3 linked regions of the Homo sapiens genome follow. The protein of the gene in region 3 interacts with the protein of the main gene of each other region in a pairwise test. Each region holds a gene or a part of one and is shown on either strand. Other genes may lie near its edges.

Region 1 (3,723 bases), on a different chromosome or scaffold from region 3:
ATGGAGTCTCACTCTGTTGCCAGGCTGGCATGCAGTGGCACCATCTTGGGTCACTGCAACCTCTACCTCCCAGGTTCAAGCAATTCTCCTGCCTCAGCCTCCCGAGTAGCTGAGACTAAGGCACACGCCGCCACGCCCGGCTAATTTTTTTTATTTTTATTTTACTAGAGACGGGTTTCACCATGTTGCCCAGGCTGGGCTTGACCTCCTGACCTCAGGTGATCCGTCCACCTTGGCGCATGTCTGTAATCCCAGCTACTTGGGAGGCTGAGGCAGGAGAATCGCTTGAACCCAGGAGGCAGAGGTTGCAGTGAGCCAAGATCACGCCGCTGCACTCCAGCCTGGGCGAGAGAGTGAGACTCCGTCTAAAAAAAGAAAATTGATATCCTCACATTTGCCCATCATGTCCTTGAAATGAGAAGTCAGATTGTTCTCTCCATCTCAGCAACTTGACCTTGGTGGGATCAGAAGGCCAGTCCTCAGGGCGGACCCTCTTGGGCACAGTGGGCCCAGGCCCTCCTCTGTGGGAATCACGGGGTTTAGAACCTTTAGCTTTCTTCTGGAGGTTCACCTGCCCTCACAGGCGCTTCCTTCCAGGACAGATGTCCCACGGCTTGCAGATGGCTGGGCCCCAGGAGACGGTGCTAGCCCTTCCTCTGAGAGAAGGTAGGCGTCTCTCACCTGCACAGGTAAATCCCCACTGAGGTTTGGGGGCGAGAGGAAGTGGAGAGCCCATGGCTGAAGGATTTCCCTTGCATCCTTCCCACAGCAACCCCAAGTTGTTCTCTCACCCATTTGCTGCTCTCCTTACCCAGTGTGGCTTGACGTCTGGGACAGTGGCAGGTGGGCAGAGGGACCACAGTATTCTGTCCTGTCTGCAGGGGTGCAGGCTGCCGCCACCGTGCCCATCCTCCTGTACAACCTGGAGGATGGCTTGTCAGACCATCCCCTGGACCAGGGGCCCCGCTGCCCTGCCCGGCGGCCCTGCAGCCCTGCCTCGGCTCCAGCTCCCACATCGCCAAAGAAGCCCAAGATACAGGCACCTGGGGAAACGTTTCCCACTGACTGGAGCCCCCCGCCCGTGGAATTCCTCAACCCGAGGGTGCTGCAGGCCAGTCGGGAGGCCCCGGCCCAGAGGTGGGTGGGTGTGGTGGGCCCCCAGGGCCTGAGGAGACTGGCTGGTGAGCTGCCCGAGGAGTTGGAGCAGGAACACCTGGACTTGGACCCGAAGAGGGGCCTGGCCTTGCCAGAGAAGCTGTTCTGGAACACGTCAGGCCTGAGCCAGCAGGCTGCGGCCCCAGAGGTGAGCCTGTGTCCACCCTTGGCCTCTTCTCCTTGGCTACCCATCTTTAGCCACCCTTTTACAGTCACCCCAGGCCACCCTCTCCTGAGCCACGCCCCAGCTGCTCTTCCTCGGACACTTCACCTTGACCATCCCTGCTCAGCCCTTGGGCCCTCATGGCTGGAAGCGCAGGCCCCCAAGGCCAGGATGCACCTCGCCCTGTGTCTCCACCAGTAACTCCTGCTGACAAATGGCTTTGGGTGGCAACAAATTCGATGCCACTTCATGGGGCCCCTTGAGGCTTTCATGGCTGAGGTTAGGGTTATGGCCCCGGAGCAAGGAGGGATCTCAGAGCTGAGGTCTGGGCTTGGTTGTCTGTAGAGACTCAAGCTGACTCTGGTCCAGTGGATCGGGAGTCCTAAATGGAACTTCAATGATGAACTTCAAATTGGGAGTAAGCTCCTGCTGCTAGGTAGACTGTGGGACATTTACAGGCTGTGGATCGAGAACAGTTATTCTAAGAATGGGTTTCAGCTGTTTGTAACAGCCTGCGAGAGAGAGACAGACAGACAGACAGACAGAGACACAAGGGAGAGGGGGACAGAGGGAAGGAGAGAGAGAGGGAGGTGGGAGAGAGGGAAGGAGGGGGAGAAGGAGAGAGAGGGAGGGAGGGAGAGGAGAGGAGGAGAGGGCAATGGGGAGGGGCACAGTGGGAAAGGGAGCAGATAGGGAGGGGGAGAGAAGCTCTTTGGCTTTGATAGGGAATGATGTCAGATCATTGAGATTGAAAAGTGTGTGGTGCAGGATAGAGCCTGGTGCAGGATAAGCTGTGTGGTGTGGTGTGCTGGCGCCTGTGATGTGGTGTTGTTTGCTGTCTCTGTGTGAAGTGTCTCTGAAAGCACATGAGGAATGCCTATCCCATGGGCACCTGTGGGGAGGGAACAGGTGGCTGGGGGTGGGGATGGGGGCAGGGAGACATTTTACCCTGCGCCTTTATACTTTTTGATTTTTTAATCCTGTAAACATAGTATCTTTTCAGAAAAGCAAACAAAATAAATAAAGGGCTTAATTTAGTTTTTTTTCTTTTTTCTCCTCTATCTTTGTACTTCTCTGTCGTCCTCATTCCCATGTCCTGTTTCTCCAGTTTTCCTGGGGGGGCTCAGGAAGCTACTTCAACAACCTGGACTACTTACTGCAGGAGAAGAGGTGAGCACAGGGCGTGGCCTGTCATGGGGTGCTTATTTCTGCAGGGTTGGCAGCAGTCCCGGGACTCACTGCAGAGTCTGGTCGGAGTACAGCGGCCTCCCACCCAGACTCAGCCTGCCCTGTGTGCTCTGATCAGTAACAGGCAGGTCGCCAGGGCAGGGGGTGGCATCACCAAGGCAGAGAGCCCCCAGACTCCCACCACGAACAGAGCCCTCCTTCTGGGTCCCCTCTCCACCTTGGCTCCATTCTGCCCAACTCCTGCCAGTTTGAGGGTGTCTCCTCCCACTCAAGGGTTATGTGAGAGGGAAGTGGAAAAGCAGACTGTTTTGTGGCTGAGGGTTACAGCCTGGCTGTGGCTGGAGGGTCATGCTGGGCAGACGGGACTTCCTAACATTTCTGCCGCTGCTTTCTACCCCAGTGTGCAGGCACGCGTTGCCCATTTTCCCATCCTCTCTGAGTTTCACACCTGCCTTCTCCCAGCATATTAGCTTCTAACTAGCTCTCTCCCTGTCTGCCATAAGTAGTTTCCACGGACCGCTGAAGGCAACAGTCACGTCTGATGAGATTGGAAATCCCTAGGGAGGTGCAGGTGGCTGGGGACAGACAGGGGTCGTCTTCATGGGGGCATGCTCTTTGGTGGCATGTGAGCAGGTTGTTCACACTTCCTGAGTCTTTGTCCTCTCCCGTTGTTGTGTTGTGTTGTTTTTGTTCAGTGCATGTCCATTGTGTTTGCAGAAGTTAAGTGTGGGCGGGGGCGATGCCACCCTGGAACACCCAGCTCTCCTGGTGGGAGGACTGATACCCACTCTTTCCACCCTCCTCAAAGTTCCCAGCCCTGTTGGCAGAGAGCTCCTCATGCACTGGGATGAATTATTCTTTGGTCCATTCTTGGCCCTCTGGCCCGCCCTGGAGTCATCTCATCTGCCTCTGCTGTGCAGCCCCTCTGGGCTCCTCCGACCCGGGAACTTGTGTTGTTCAGCTCCTTCACCTGAGTGATTTTCTCCCATTAGATTGTACGTTAGGGAAGGGACCATGCCTATATATTTCCACGGTGCCCAGCATGGTGATGTACATTTAGTAGACGCTTGAAAATATTGGCAGGAAAATGAGCAGCTGGGGCCTCCTCGTGACTGCTTGTCGGTGTGCCTGGCATTGGGAGGGTCCTGCTCTGTGCTAGTCAGCTCGGGCTGCTGTAACAGGATGGCACACACTGGGGGCTTAAACAATACAGTTAT
Region 2 (3,723 bases), on a different chromosome or scaffold from region 3:
CAAGAAAGTGTTCAAACTGAGCCCCAAATTCTATAAATCAAGACCAGAAATGATGGCGGTGGACAGGCTATCCAGTAGCCTTTTGAAATGCGCCCCCTTATATAGTCAGCGGAGGAATTGATTCACTTCTTTGCCTTCCCTTTGTCAGGGTAAATGGTGCCAATCTCTTCAGAAAGTTCCCTAAGAGCTCCTTTCCCTCTCCTAATTTTTACTACTCAGCTTTTCACTATTCTTTCTGTTTCTCCACATTCTTTTAAAAAATGCAGGAGCAAAAATTGGGTCCAACTTTCTATTAAAGTACCCAAACCATAGAAGTGTCTCTTACAGTTCACATGTCCCTGTTTTCCTTCCTTTTTTAAAAACATTTAACGAACCACAGTTCCCAACATTTGGCCTATTGACCACTCTGTCCCTAACTGAGCTGGGGATATTCAGCCTGCATTTTCAGAGATGGATTAGAATAACTCTAGAGAAATAGAAATGATGGTTTCTCTGACTGAGACCATTCACTTTCCTTTAATTCAATATCATGTGCTTAATGAAAACTGTTACTGTTCCAAGTCAATTGGAAACTTATCTCAAGTGTTTTAGGAGGGAAAAAAATGACCCTGCAGTCACTGGACTCTTGTTAATGGGAGAAATACTTGTAGTCATTAGTTTCATTTTGATAATCATGGTGGGGGAAGCTCCAAGGAGTATCCAATTCTATCCTGGTGGAAAAAAGATGTTCTTCACCAGCAGGTATTTCATATCGCATGCTCCAATCTGTAACATCATTGATCCCACTGCCACAGCAAGTATGACGTAAGCACAGAGTAGGCACTCAGCTAATACTCAATGAATAAATGAATGAGTCATTTTTAGGAGCTCCTGCACTTCTAAAACTTCTGATTTCAGCATTCAGTTTAAACTATTCATTCAACAATTTATTAAATGGCTACAATGTATTAGTCACTGGTGATAAAGCAGTGGGGGAAAAAAGCAGATGAAGCCCCCGCCTTCATGGATACAGACAGTAAACAAGATAAGTACAAGTGTTAGATCATGATAACTACTGTGTAAAAGAGACAAGGAAGGGTTGGGGGTGGCTGGTGCAATTTTAGATGATATAACCAGGCAAGGCTTTACCAAGAAAGTGAGAATTGGGTAAAGATACGAAGGATGAGAAAAAGTGAGCCATCAGATACCTGAAAAAAAAATCATTCTAGACAGACAGCAAGTGCAAAGGCCCTGAGGTGGGTGCATCTCTGGTATAGTTGAGGATCACCAAAGAGGCCAGGAAGGCTGAGGCTGAGAGACAACAGGGCATCCAGACTATGTACAACCTTAAGTCATGACAAAGATTTTTGCCTTTTTTTCTGGGTGAGAAGGAAAGACATTGGAGGATTCTGCTGAAGGAACACCTTGACCCAATCTACTTGTTCAAAGCCTCCCTCTGGCTACTGTGCTAAGAAGAGACTGTAGGAGGACAAAGATGGAAGCAGGGAGATGTCTTAGGATGCTGTGTAGATCACTACAAAATATACAGTTAGCTTAGATTGGGGGGTTAGTGGTAAAAGTAGTGAGACATGGAAAGATTCTGGGCATAGTTTGAGGAAGAGACAAGACTTCCTCACCCGCTACATGTGGTGTGTGAAAAAAGAGGGGAGTCAATGGTTTTTGTTCTGAGCAACTGGAAAATAAGTGGCCATTTCCTGAAAGGGGAAGACTGTGTGAGGAACAGGCTGGGGTGTGGGGCAGATTTTCAGGAGCTGAGATTTGGGTCTCTCACTTTTGAGGTTGCTGTTAAATGTCACAGCGAGGGCCATCTTCAGTTCCTTCACAACCTGGCAGGGAAGGAGACACAGACTAGGGCTGATCTGAAAGTCAGAGACCTGGGGTCAGTTCATTAACTGCCTTTGGCACCTCAGGAAACTCCGTTCATCTCTGTGAGCCTGTTTTCTCATCTGGCGGATGGTTACAGTTGATTAGGTGACTCTGTAAGGCCACCTCTAGCATCTTGACATGTTAAGATTACAAGAATTTGTTTGCTCATGGGTGACATTCACTTTTAGCAGGGACACAAAGAGCCCCTCTTCATTGACCCTTTCAGTAAGATGCCCTCTTCTCACAGAAAAGAAGTTCCTCAAGAATGAGGAGCGTGCTGGGCCTGACTGAACTCCTTGTTCTTATTTCCTAAAGAGAGGCAGGACCTTCTTACTCTAAAATCTATTAAGATTCACCACTATCCCCATGTCCCTGCTTGAGCTCACTAGTTAATTAACTGCCCACTTCAATTTATCTGTGATACTTAATGGAAAGTCTTTTCTGTCTACTAACGGGACAGAAAGCACCTTCTGAGGTTTTTTTCTCTCATACTAGAATACCCAGCTAAACCACACTATAAATTAAAAGATGTGATGGTTTCAACACACAGTGGTGGTCTCTCTGAATGGGAAGGTTAGGTCTGTCAAACCTGTGTAATGCCAGTAATGCCAAAAGATGATGGAATATACCAATATCAAAGATTTGATAGCAGACCCAGGTAAAAAAAACTCAGTGAGTGAAATGAAACCTACAGTTTGCCCCAGAGAGAGACCTAGGATTAGAGGAGAAAAGTCACCTCCACCCTGAAGGTCAGTCTGACGATCCATTGGTAGAGCAGATCATAAGGACCCTGAAACCTTGGCTCTGAGACTTGCTGCCTGGTTATTGGAAGAAAAAAGGAGACGGTCCAGTTTGGGGATCACCATCTGGGCTCCAGAAGAGGATGGGTAAATGTGGAGGAGGAAGATGCCTCTTGCCCTCTCTGCTCTGGAGAGACACACTTCCTAGGAAAAGGGTACATTCAATTGCAATACACGAGTACCCAAAGTCATCCTAATTTCCTATTCAGACTTCTCTTTAGAGCCCTGTGGGAAAGAAATTTGAAGTGGAGATTAGGATGACTTTGGGCACCATGACTTCTCGTGTATTGCAGTTGAATGTCCCCTTGCCTAGGAAATGCCTCTCTCCGGACACGAGTTTTGGAACTGAATGTGTCTCACCTTCCCTCTTCATGCCCATGACAAGGCACTTCTGATAGCGACAGTACTGGCAGCGGTTGCGCTGACGCTTGTCAATGAGGCAGTCTTTATTATCCCGACACGTGTAGATGAGGTCCTTCCTTATCGTCCTCTTGAAGAACCCTTTGCAGCCTTCACAACTGTATACCCCGTAGTGCTTTCCTGGTTAGAAGAAAAGAACATTCCATAGATTGTTCTTGTGTTTATTTGGATCTTTCATTCAAAAGAACCTCTTGGCTCTTCCCCCAGAGAAACAGGCATATCACTTGGGCATTGGGACAGAAAGCAAATAATCACTAGCAGAGAATGCAGGCTTGATCACAGGAACCAAACTAAGACACAGCAAATACACTTGTCCTCGTGTCTTTCCTCTGCATTACTAATTCCAGAGAGAATTATTAGAAAATTCCTAAAGCTAAGGCTTTCTTTATATTTATTTTATAAAGGCAACTCTTGGGTTTAGTTAAGCAAATGTTCTGCCTCCATTCAAAACATTAGTGTAAATAATAAATAAAAATATATATGCTTGTCACGTATTACCTAGCAGGAAAAGAACCCCAACTTAACTAATTATAATTGAGACCCAAGTTCTTAGGAAACCTATTTAAATTTATTATCCTTTACCATAAACTATGAACAGAATTCTGAGTTATGAATTGTTAAGTGCTATTGACTGTTG
Region 3 (3,500 bases):
AGGCCAGAAGCGCACTGAAGACAGGTTTATTGACACTCCTGCTTCGGATCGAGCTACATGGGGTAAGGAGGGACAGTTGTGGAGAGCAGGAGGGCCCCGGGGTTCTGGGGAGCAGCAGAGAGGGAGACCCAGGGTTGCTGGTGCCACTGTGAGCACAGGCCTGCACCACACGCCTTCCCAGGAAGGCCTCCCCTCACCCAGCCAGGCCCTCCTGCTCCCTTCCCACATGCAGGGTGGGACGGGCCTGTGCATGGCCCCCAGATGAGGACCCAAGCTCCTGCAGGGGCGGTGGCCTTCAGTCAAGACAGCTGGGAGGCAGCAGATCCGTGATTAGGCTGGGACGCTGGCTCCCAGGCTCGGGTGGTGGTGCAGCGGCCTCTCCAGCCCCAGCCCCCAGGACCATTCAGACTGGTGGTGTCATGGATGAGGAGCACCTCTGCCTGGCCCAGACATGCTTGGAGCTTAGGATGGGGGCTCCTGGGCAGTGGGGAAGGGGCCCAGGGCAGGGGGGAGCCTCATACGAGTCTGGCTGGCACAAGGCTGAGCAGGAGCCCGGGGCTCACAGTGGCCGAGGCAGGGCTAGGACCAGGCCCAGGTGGGCGGGCAGCACTCAGCTGCTGTGGTAGATGCGGAGGCGCTGGGCGATGTCCTGGCGGCACAGCGGGCAGGTGCGCAGTGGCTGGCAGCACTGCTGGCAGCAGCAGACGTGGCCACAGTTGAGGAAGATCATCTGGGCCTGGGGAGGGAGAGCGGGAGCATGTGGCTGGCCCTACCGGGTTCCAGGAGTCCCAGGCCCGTCTTTTTTTTTTTTTTTTTTTTTTTTGAGACAGAGTCTCACTCTGTTGCCCAGGCTGGAGTGCAGTGGTGGGATCTCAGCTCACTGCAACCTCAGCCTCCCGGGTTTAAGTGATTCTCCTGCCTCAGCCTCCCAAGTAGCTGGGACTACAGGCGTGCACCACCATACCTGGCTAAATTTTTTGTATTTTTAGTAGAGATGGGGTTTCACCATGTTGGTCAGGCTAGTCTCGAACTCCTGACCCCAAGTGATCTGCCCGCCTCGGCCTCCCAAAGTGCTGGGATTACAGGCGTGAGCCACCATGCCGGCCCCCTTCATTATTCTTTAGCATCTTTACCATAAACGCCTGATAGTGGGGCCTTCGGGCATTTGACCACCACAGAAACAGAACAGGCACGGCCGAAACAGGTAACCTAGGCCTTCTGTTAGCAGTTTGCTGTCTATTTCTCTATAGTTTGTAAAAAATATAAATACCCATATAAATGCCCCAACTGATTCTTTCTTAAATAAAACTGGGGATTATATTCCTGCGCTCTGGACAGGCGACGGAGGCCTATTCCGCCGGCCCCTGCCGGAGGGCACGCAGGGTGTTCAGGCTTCTTTCTTGTTGATGCACTTGCCCAGGCCCTGAACTCCTCAGTCTACAAACAATCCCAACCCGGAGCAGCAGCCACTGACTCAGGACCACACTTTGCCTCAGCATCTCCTGCTTTCAGGAACTGATCCAAGCTCCGCTCAAAGCTGTCTGGAATGCCAAGGGCCCCAGAACAGGGATTATATTTGGAACCAATAGGTCCATCCATATCATGGCATGAGTCAGGTCAACGGGAGACCCTGGAATCATCAAACTGCAAACATGGCTGCTTTTCTAAGTAGGATCCCTCAGTGGAGGCAAAGGAGGATTTGTATTTCATTCACTGCTCTGTGTAATTTTTAGAGTAAGTGTTAATGAATTTTTAAAAGATGATTTTTTCTTTTTTTTGAGATGGAATCTCGATCTGTCTGCCAGGCTGGAGTGCAGTGGTGGGATCTTGGCTCACTGCAATCTCTGCCTCCCGGGTTCAAGCGATTCTCCTGCCTCAGCCTCCCAAGTATCTGGGCTTACAGGCGCCCACCACCACGCCTGGCTGATTTTTGTATTTTTAGTAGAGATGGAGTTTTACCATGTTGGCCAGGCTGGCCTCAAACTCCTGACCTCAGGTGATCCACCTGCCTTGGCCTCCAAAAGTGCTGGGATTACAGGCGTGAGCCACCATGCCTGGCCAAAAGATGATTTTCTAAAGCCTCTGCAGGGTAAATCATGTTGTTGATATTTCATGATTTGGGAAATTTTTTCCTAATGTATTTATTAAGTAGGAACAAAAAGAAAAAGGTCCGGAAAATGATGTGAGCGCAGCTCATATTTGGGTCATGGGACCAGGGGTCATCTTTATTTCCTGCCTTCTTTCTAGATGAGCACAGTCTACTTAGAGAACTGGAGAAAACACGTTCAGAGACAACCCTGTACCTGCAGAATTTGAGGAGGGTGGCCACAGGCAGGGCAGGCGGGTGGGGAGGGCCCCGGACTTACCTCCCGTTCCAGGCACACGACACACTCTGAGGCCTGCACCTCCAGCTCTGCAGGGGGAGCGGATGGCCTCACAGACTCAGGAGGCTCCTGGGGGGCCGTAGGGGTGACGACCTCACCCATTGGTGGTTTCAGCTCTGTGGGGACCAGACAGACAGACTGAGCCAGGGTCATCTCCGCTGACCCTAACCCCTGGGGGCTCATTGTGGCCCTGCCCATCCCCATGGTGAGTGAGCTGGAGGGTGGGGGAGCCTCTGCTCTCAGATCTGAGGGAAGTGCTCTCCTTGCCACACACTCTCTTCTTCTCTTCTCTGAGCCTCATTTCCCATCTGCAGAATGGGAGTGAAGTCTCTCTCTGCAGGGATGGCCGCAGCGCTTGTTAAGTGGGTCCTCTGATCTCTAATGTCCCCGGGACGCTTCATAGCCACCCTGCAAGTAGGGCTTGGCACTTTCAGAGATGAGACATTTGAGGCTCAGAGACGGGGAGTCACTCAACCCAGGGCCATGTGGCCATCTGGTGATGCAGCTGCAGATCCCTGGGGCAGGAGCTCTCAGTGAAGGGCCAGCTCTTGGCTTCTCCACCTGGTTGCCCAGGAGACAGGATGGGCTGCTGCCCATCAGGTGACCCAGGGGAGCAGAATGAGAGGCCCCCCGCAAGGCTGTTCCCCTGCCCCCAGCCCCACAGAGTCCCCAGCATGCTGGCTGCTCTGCCCTGGAGTCAGCATCCCCTGCTAAGACATCAGAAGCAGCCCTTACAAAATGCTAAGTCTCTTTTTTTTTTTTTTTTTGAGACAGTCTCGCTCTGTCACCCAGGCTGGAGTTCAGTGGCGCGATCTCGGCTCACTGCAACCTCTGCCTCCCAGGTTCAAGCAATTCTCCTTCCTCAGCCTCCCGAGTAGCTGGGATTACAGGTGCCCACTATCACGACAGGCTAATTTTTGTATCTTTAGTAGAGGTGGGGTTTCACCATGTTGGCCAGGCTGGTCTCAAGCTTTTGACTTCAGGTGATCTGCCCACCTCAGCCTCCCAGAGCGCTGGGATTACAGGCGTGAGCCAACGTGCCCGGCTGCTAAGTCTCTTTTTCTATCATGCAACGTGAGCCACCCACTTCCTTGACTCTATCCCTCGTTCCCTTCC

Evidence for each region.
Region 1: the proteins of LRSAM1 (region 3) and FAM178B interact in a two-hybrid assay, tested with the Homo sapiens proteins (one large-scale study listed by BioGRID and IntAct).
Region 2: the proteins of LRSAM1 (region 3) and RXRG interact in a two-hybrid assay, tested with the Homo sapiens proteins (one large-scale study listed by IntAct).

Annotation. Positions count from the first base shown.
Region 1 is NC_000002.12:96,969,481-96,973,203, reverse strand, and holds part of FAM178B (protein FAM178B), read left to right. Parts: intron 1-597; coding exon 598-666; intron 667-881; coding exon 882-1,303; intron 1,304-2,426; coding exon 2,427-2,488; intron 2,489-3,723.
Region 2 is NC_000001.11:165,414,015-165,417,737, forward strand, and holds part of RXRG (retinoic acid receptor RXR-gamma), read right to left. Parts: intron 3,207-3,723; coding exon 3,027-3,206; intron 1-3,026. UniProt on the Homo sapiens protein: Receptor for retinoic acid. Retinoic acid receptors bind as heterodimers to their target response elements in response to their ligands, all-trans or 9-cis retinoic acid, and regulate gene expression in various biological processes.
Region 3 is NC_000009.12:127,500,010-127,503,509, reverse strand, and holds the end of LRSAM1 (E3 ubiquitin-protein ligase LRSAM1), read right to left. Parts: intron 2,501-3,500; coding exon 2,367-2,500; intron 737-2,366; coding exon 611-736; 3' UTR 11-610; downstream 1-10.